Linked DNA regions of Homo sapiens: region 2 is linked to region 1. A link means that fine-mapping ties the variant in region 1 to the plasma level of a protein whose gene starts in the linked region. Region 1 holds a variant in brackets. A gene starts in the other region. All regions are shown on their reverse strands.

What was found. PIP is the chance, under the fine-mapping model, that this variant and not a neighbour inherited with it causes the effect. Protein levels are from antibody-based Olink assays in UK Biobank. Linkage for the fine-mapping came from a reference panel and not from the study's own genotypes, which makes the PIPs less certain.
Region 2: LRP1 starts here. The variant in region 1 is fine-mapped to the plasma level of the LRP1 protein (UK Biobank, PIP above 0.99).

Annotation. Positions count from the first base shown.
Region 1 is chr4:2,608,628-2,613,009 of GRCh38, reverse strand. All of the region lies in intron 2 of FAM193A (family with sequence similarity 193 member A), which reads right to left. Among named protein-coding and RNA genes, the nearest start is that of FAM193A, 74 kb to the right of the region's middle. The variant T/C (reference allele first, on the strand shown) is at 2,524.
Region 2 is chr12:57,126,226-57,130,607 of GRCh38, reverse strand. LRP1 (LDL receptor related protein 1) reads right to left here and starts at 2,125. Exons shown (of 89, transcript NM_002332.3): 1 at 1,577-2,125. The coding sequence starts at 1,643. RefSeq lists an enhancer at 2,465-3,118.

The sequences.
Region 1 (4,382 bases):
TCCCCCAAACTGATCTATAGAGTCAACACAATGCCAGTTAAAATCCCAACAGGCTTTTCTGTAGAAACTGACAAGTTGGCTCTAAAGTTTACATAGCAATGCAAAGGATCTAATATATCCAAACCACTTTTGAAAAAGAAGAAAGTTGGTAGACATCTATGTAATTTCATGACTTACTATAAATAGCTTCAAGAATCAGGATAGTATGGTACTGGCAAAGGAATAGGAATATATGTAAAGTGGGACACAGCATCCAATAATAGATCCATACATACAGAACCAACTGATTTTTGACAAAGGTCCCAAGGTAATTCAATGAGATAAAATTGTCTTTTCAATAAATAGTTCTGAACAACTGGATATCAGTATGCAAAAAAAGATGACTCTTAACCCTTACAACAGATAAAAGCTTCATTCAAGGTGGCTCATAGACCTAAATGTATATGCTAAAACTATTAAGACAGAAAAAAACAAACAAGCAAAAAAAACTTTTTTGTTTGTTTGTTGTTTTGAGATGGAGTCTCACTCTGTCACCCAGGCTGGAGTACAGTGGTGCAATCTCGGCTCACTGCAACCTCCACCTCCTGGGTTCAAGTGATTCTCCTGCCTCAGCCTCCCGAGTAGCTAGGATTACAGGTGCACGCCACCGTCTCGGCTAATTTTTGTATTTTTAGTAAAGACAGGGTTACTCCATGTTGGTCAGGCTGGTCTCAAATTCCTGACCTCGTGACCCACCCGTCTCAGCCTCCCAAAGTGCTAGGATTACAGGCGTGAGCCACGGCCCGGCCAGGGCAAAAAATCTTTATAACCTTGAGTAGCAAAGATTTCTTACATGGAACACAAAGGCACAAAATCATTTAGAAACACAAATTGGAGCCGGGCGCGGTGGCTCACGCCTGTAATCCCAGCACTTTGGGAGGCCGAGACAGACGGAACACGAGGTCAGGAGAACGAGACCATCCTGGCTAACACGGTGAAATCCTGTCTCTACTAAAAATACAAAAAATTAGCCGGGCATGGTGGTGGGCGCCTGTAGTCCCAGCTACTTGGGAGGCTGAGGCAGGAGAATGGTGTGAACCCGGGAGGCGGAGCTTGCAGTGAGCCGAGATAGTGCCACTGCACTCCGGCCTGGACAAAAGAGCGAGAGACTGTCTCAAAAAAAAAAAAAAAATGGATTTGATCAAAATATAAATCTTTTGCTCTTCAGAGGACAGTGCTGTATAATGAAAATGCCAGTCACACGCTGAGAGAAAATGTTTGTGAAGCCTGTCTAATAAAGGGCTTGTATTGAGATTATATAAAAATATCTCACAACTCATTAAGACAACTCAATAAAAATGAGCAGAAGATCTGAACAGCCACTTTTCCAAAGAGATACAAATGGAAAATAGGTACATGAAAAGATGCTCAACAAGTCGTTAAGAAAATGCAGATTAAGCCGGGCGTGGTGGCTCACGCCTGTAATCCCAGCACTTTGGTAGGCTGAGGCGGGTGGATCACCTGAGGTCGGGAGTTCAAGACCAGACTGACCAACATGGTGAAACCCCGTTTCCACTAAAAATACAAAAAAAAAATTAACTATGCATGGTGGCTGGCGCCTGTAGTCCCAGCTACATGGGAGGCTGAGACAAGAGAACTGCTTGAACCTGGGAGGTGGAGGCTGCAGTGAGCCGAGATTGAGCCACTGCACTCCAGCCTGGGTGACACAGTGAGACTCTGTCTCAAATAAATAAATAAATAAATAAATAGAAAATGCAGATTAAAACCATAATGAAGGATAACACTACAAACCACTAGAATGGCTGTAAGTAAAGACTGCCAATATCCAGCACTTGGCAAAGATAAAGATCAACTGGACCTCTCATACGTGGCTGCAGAACAGTATAAGCACTTACCCTATAGGACTCAGCAATTCCACTCCCAGGTGTTTATCAAAGAGAAGTAAATTGCATCCACTTAAAAGACTGATACTCGGCCGGGCACGGTGGCTCATGCCTGTAATCCCAGCACTTTGGGAGGCGGAGGCGAGTGGATCACCTGAGGTTGTAAGTTTGAGACCAGCCTGACCAACATGGAGAAACCCTGTCTCTACTAAAAATACACAACTAGCTGGGCGTGGTGGTGCATGCCTGTAATCTCAGCTACTTGGGAGACTGAGGCAGGAGAATCGCTTGAACTTGGGAGGCGGAGGCTGCGGTGAGCCGAGATCGCGCCATTGCACTCCAGCCTGGGTGACAAGAGCGAAACTCCATCTCAAAAAAAAAAAGACTGATACTCAAATGTTCCTAGTAGCTCTACTCATAACAGCCCAAACTGGAAAATACAAACGTCTCTCTATTGATGAATGGATAAACAAATTGTGGTTTATCCATACAATGGATTATTACCCAGAAATAAAAGGAATTAACTATTGCTACATGCAACAACAGAGATGACTCTCAAAAGCATTATGCTAAAGGAAAAAAGCCAAAGATCACCACTCAGCTTATCTTTCTGTAAGGCTAACTCAAGTCAATCTGGCAA[T/C]TTTGAGTAGTTCCAACAAATTACATTAGCAACTACTTTCATGAAGTTCACTGCAAAGAAATCTGTACGTTTCTAATATGACCTAAAACCCAACAGGGCAAGCATTCAAGGTAAGGACCAATACTAGCAAACTCTTAAATGGCTGGTTTAAGTTGGGACTATATGCCTTGATTGATCTATGGGCGTAGTAACCATTGGGTAACAATTCAAGATAATGACAAATACTAGCGAGTTTTTTTTGTTTTGTTTTGTTTTTGAGACAGAGTCTCGCTCTGTCGCCAGGCTGGAGTTTAGTGGCGTGATCTCGGCTCACTGCAACCTCCAACTCTCTGGTTCAAGCGATTCTCCTGCCTCAGCCTCCTGAGTAGCTGGGATTACAGGCACCCGCAACCAAGCCCAACTAATTTTTGTATTTTTAGTAGAGATGGGGTTTCATCATGTTGGCCAGGCTGGTCTCAATCTCCTGACCTCAGGTGACCCATCTGCCTCGGCCTCCCAAAATGCTGGGATTACAGGAGTGAGCCACTGCGCCCAGCCAGCAAACTCTTTTTTTTTTTTTAAGACGGAGTCTCGCTCTGTCATTAGGCTGGAGTGCTGTAGCGCCATCTCAGCTCACTGAAACCTCAGCCTCCCGGGTTAGAGGGATTCTCCTGCCTCAGCCTCCTGAGTAGCTGGGACTACAGATGCACAACACCACACCCAGCTGATTTTTTATATTTTTAGTAGAGACGGGGTTTCACCGTGTTAGCCAGGATGGTCTCGATCTCCTGACCTCATGATCCACCCGCCTCGGCCTCCCAAAGTGCCGGGATTACAGGCGTGATCGGCCTAGGCCGCCGTGCACGGTGGCCTACGCCAGCAAACTCTTAAATGGCTTAAGTTGGGACTATATGCCTTGATTAATCTATGGGCATAATAACTATTGGAGAACCCAGTTCCTTAGTGTAAAATGCAACTTACATTTTAATAATATGATATATGAGAATAAAGACAACTGCTAATGCCCATAATCAAAATGGAGTCTAAAACAGCCTTGAAAACAGAAAAATAGATAGAAACTTAAGACTACTTGCCGAGTAGTCTTCTTTATGACAGGATGCTTGAGTTCAGGGCCCTTTAAAGAAAAAACAATTACCCCAAAGTGCCATCCCCTCACCGTATCTCCCACCAGACTAAAACTATTTTTGTTAAACATATGCAAATGTTAAAATGCAACATAATATGTCTTTTAGCCTTCATATAATGTAAAAACTCAAGGTGGTTTAAAGTGAAATATTTTTAAAATGGTGAAATTCAGCCAGGCACGGTGGCTCAGATCTGTAATCCCAGCACTTTGGAAGGCCGAGGCGGGTGGATCACAAGGTCACAAGACTGGGACCGTTCTGGCTAACACGATGAAACCCCACCTCTATGAAAAATACAAAAAAAATTAGCCAGCCGTGGTGGTGGATGCCTGTAGTCCCAGCTACTCGGGAGGCTGAGGCAGGAGAATGGCGTGAACCCGGGAGGCAGAGCTTGCAGTGAGCCAAGATGGCACCACTGCACTCCAGCCTGGGCGACAGAGTGAGACTCTGTCTCAAAAAAAAAAAAAAAAGGTGAAATTCAAATTAACAACATTATTTTAAAGAGAGAGATCGATGATTAGCTGAAACCAAATTGCTAAGTTCAACACAGGCTTGGTCCTGACTATTAAGGAGCAAGATTTGTTTAGTCAGGCCTGTCCCCTTGCAGGTCTATGCAAAAATGTCTCAGCCATCCCACCTCTCTTCTCTGAATTTCTCCTTCAGTGGGCTACCTCTGGGCCCGAGATAGAATGTTATTAAGACCAACCAACACTCTCCTCAAAGCCTATGGCAAAC
Region 2 (4,382 bases), not on the chromosome of region 1:
CAGAAGCGGCTGCAACCCCAATCTCCCTGCCTCGATTTCCCTTCTCACCTCACAGGGCTGAGAACAAGAGAAAAACACATGATAATGACAGGAGTTATAGGCAGAAGCCGGCTGTGCGGCATCTGGAGGATATTCAGGAAAAGCCCCTCTCCTCCTCCGGGGCAGCTAATTGGTGGGGTGGGGGTGGGGGGTAGAGAGTCCCCAAGATGGCACAACTGAGGGACACTAAATATGTTTTTTGGGGACACAGCTGCTTCCTGACCCTGTAAGTCTCCTCCCCCAATTGAAGCAAGTTAGGGAGAGGGAGGGAGATAATCTGGTTTCAGAGAAAAACTTTCCCAATCCCAATCTGGCAAGACAGAGGAGGGGGTGTATGATGGTATCCAGCCCAGTTTTGTCTTTGGATGAGAGGGCTAAGATGACAGGAGGGGATGAGATCCCACCCCTTCTCAAATCAGGGACCTAGCCCAGCCCAACCCCATGACCCCAGCTTAATGCTTAAAGCTTGGGCAAGACTTGAACCAGTGACTCACAAGTAGGAGAAAAAAACAGCTGACAAAAAAAGGGAAGAGAGGCACCCCATTTCCCCAAAAGGATGCAGTTCTAGCCTAAGCCTAACTCTGCAATATACAAAGTGTGTGTGTATGGGGTTTTGGGCTTGGAGGGGTGCAGGGAATAAACAGATTTACTAAAGGAGTGTGGGGGCACAGCCATAATCCCCATCCAACCTCCAACTCTCCTTCCAATCCAAACTGTGATGAAGCCAGAAGTCAGGAAGAAGGCAGCCTCCCCCACCCTCCTACCCCAGCATTCCAGGCCATTCTCCAGTCCCCTTCCCCAGTGATGACATCTGACGTTTTTTCATCTCAAAGCTCCCAGGAATTAAGAAGGAAAATTCAAAGTCACATAGTATGGCGAGCTCCCCCTCTCTGCCCCCCAACACAGCCCTACCCCAGGCTACTGACAGAGGCCCTGAGAGGGGGAAGAGCCTACTTCAGCACCCAGGCCTCCAGCCGGGGCTCTGGGGTCGATTCCACGCCCAAGCAGGGGGCCCTCCCTCTCCCCACCCACAGCCTTCCCGGGCCTGCCTGCCCTCTGCCCGGCAGGGTACCCCTGGCCTGGCTCCCCTTTCGAGCTACAGAGGCCAGTGCAAAAGCCACCCCCCCCACCCCCACCCCCTTTTGCAGCCGAACATTGCAAATCCGGATTCCTTCACAATTCAGATGGGGGGTGGGGGGTTGTGAGGATGTAGGGGAGGCGGAGGCCCTCCCCGAACAGAGATAGGAAAAGAAGGCCTCTCCTCCCCAGGATCAGAAAAATGGGGAGCCCTCTTCTCTCTACCCAGGCCTCTGGTCTTTGTTTGTGCTGGGGGGCCCCGGAAGCATCATTTGCCCAGGGCCCCCATCCCCCAAATCGGACCCCATCCCCGCCCCCAGTCGGGCCGCTGCTGTGTCAGCTGGACTGGGATAACAAAAGGCACCCCCTCCCGCGTCTCCCTTCCCCATCCGTATGCAGGAGTGGGGGCTGGGGAGAGGGTGCCCCCAGGGGTCCAAGGGGGACGCGGAATCTCACTCACCGTCGATAGCCGCCGCGACCAGAGCTGAGAGCAGGGGCAGCAGCAGGAGCAACGGCGGGGTCAGCATGGTGTGGGCTGATGCAAGCAGCAGCCCCTTCCCCTCTGGTCCTGCTACTTCTCTCCTTCACCCCCCCCAGTTGGGGGGTCCCCCTTTTCCTCCTTTCCCCCTCCTCCTTCTCTGTTCTTATTCTTTCCTTCGGCAAAGCGCACCAGGGGCGTGGGTGAAGAGGTAGAGTTCCGAGCCCCTTGGGGAGGGCCTGCTGACGGGGGTGCGCCCCCTGCCCCGAAATCCAAACCCTTCACCCCACCCCCCCGCTTCACTCCTCGCTGCTCTTTCCCCCTCCCCGGGCGAAGCTCACAGCCCCATCTCGGAGCCGCCTCCGGCTGCAAAAATGCACAATTGGGAGGAGGCGGGGAGGGGGGGTGGGGGGCGTGGACCGGGTAGGGGAGCCTTTGGAGGGGGCTTGATGGAGCTCTGGGGGCTCCCCTTGTTTCCGCCTCCTCAGTGCATGGGCCTGGAGCTCGCACCGCTGTTCCCCGGACTGAAGTGCCGAGGGGGGGGCTGATGGGGGAGAGGGAGGGGACGGGTTGAGGAGGGAGGGAGGGAAGGGGCGGGGAAAGAAAAAAGGTTGGTGGGTGGGGGGAGAAAGAGCTACGCGGCAATCCAGTGAGTGCGCATGCGCCGATTTGACGCGCTGCCCGGGGGAGGGCGACGCGGACCCGCGACAGGGTTCGGAGTTCTGGAAAGCGGTCCAAGAGTGAGGGTCCCGGGGACTCGCTGGCTAGTTTGGGGCCTGGGGCGCCCTCTCCCCTGGCTGGGCCCTCCTCCCTGGTGCTCCAGAGAGCAGAAGGGGTCGAGGGTGGGATTGGGCAGTGGGCGGAGAGCTGAGCGGCTCCCCTTTGAAACTCAGTGTCATACTCTAGGATTTCAGGCTCCCTCCGGGGGCGTCCGGGACTCAGTGGTCTGGGCCGAGGCTCGATTTTCTAGGGGAACCCTGAAGGTGCCTCCTCTGCCCGGGGTGGGGACAGGGACCGCCAGTCCGCGGGGAAGGTGCAGGGAAAGGCTGAGCTTTGATTTGGAGACTTTGGAAGACCGGACTGGGATTGGGGCCTGCGAAGGAGGGGGCGGGGTTGGGGAGGGACCGCGAGGACCCGCCCCCACCTCGCTCCCGGGCTCGGAGTAAACAGGGACACCCGAGGGGACACGCCGGAGCTTGTCCGCCCGCGTGGGGCTCGGGGATGGAGCCCACCTTAGTACCCGCCCGCCCTGCTCGCCCAGCCCTAGGCGCGGGAGGGGCAGGCCCTGGTTTGGAGGGAGGTGAGTCACCAGCGGGTGGGGTTGAGGAAAGGCCACCCCCTTTCGCCCAAGAAGTCGGGGCTCATTTATTTTTCTGTTTTTTTTTTTTTTTTTTTTTTTAATACCTTCTGACTGGCTTGCCATCAAGTTAGGGTTTTAGATTCCGAGCGCCAGGATTTGGAATAAGATGAGGGACTCTGGACCTTCGTTTCCAGGCCTCGGGTTCCAAGGAGGTGTCTGCTGAGCGCCGGACCTTTGTCCCCAGGCTCAGCCCACACGGGAATGATACTTTGCAGAAGGCAGGCGCCAGGCGGTTCCCAGGGGCCAGTGAACGTGCTTTTGGTCACTGCCCCCTTCTGGGCGGCGTTTTATGGCTGTTACCTTAGTGTCTGACTTTCTAGGTGTCTGCATGTCAGAGTTCAAGGAGCGGGGCAGACGACGTCGGCTGCCAAAAATTGACGCTGGAGAGGAGGGACTGTTCCCCCTTTTACGTTCTAGTTACGGAAAAGTCCCCACTCCAGTCTGTCCTTGGCAGAAACAGGAGCAGCACGAAGGACTTGCCTCCTAATGACAGTGAGCTCAACCTTTAGCTTCTTCCAGCCGGCTTTGCTCAGCGCGGTGGCCACCTGCCTTTAGTCTCCTGGGCTAGAAACCTCAGACTTTATGCCAACTCAAGGGGGCCTTTCCTTCCTATATCCAATCTTGCCAGCCTGTGCTCCAGGCTTGTCATTTTTTTCCTCTGAAGTATATCTCAGATTTCCTCCATTTCCACTGCCAGAGAGTTGCTCCAGGCAGGAACGGGGTCTTATTTCTCCTTTTATCCAGCTCCCATGGCCCAACACAATGTGAGACGCACTATGCGGACTCACCAAATGCCTACGAGGTTCCTCCCAGGGCCCCTCCCAGTATTGGGATCCAAGTGAAATCAGGTCGAAACAGACTTTAGACAGCTTGACAGCTTTGAGAGGAAAACGGTATCTGGAGCAACCACATGTAGCCTGAGGGCTTGAAGGGGCTTTCCTCCCTCCCCCTACCCATCTGTCAGGTGAATCTTCCAAAAACTGCTTTCCCGGTGTCTCTTCCTTGCTGGGGAACCTCTAGTGGGTGTCTATAGACCAGTCAAATGTGAACTCCTCTTCAGTCATGGCTTTCCAAAACCTGGCCTCAGTCAGCATGCACTTCTCACTTGCAACCTCCCATCCCCTGCTGTCTCCTGAATGTGAATGTGTATTTTTATTAACTTTATATTGTTAAAAAAAAAAGAAAGAAAGAAAAGATAATACCTAGTGGTTAAAAAAAGTACAGGAAGGTAAAAAGTAAAAGGAAACTTGATGCTCTCCACACCCCCATTTTTCAGCTGCACCCTCAGAGTAACTTCTACTAACAGTTCTTCAGGTCTCCCCTACCAGCAGAGGTTTCCCCCCCGCCCAAGACGGAGTCTTGCCCCGTTGCCCAGGTTGGAGTGCAGTGGCCTAATCTCGGCTCACTACAACCTCTGCCTCCCGGGTT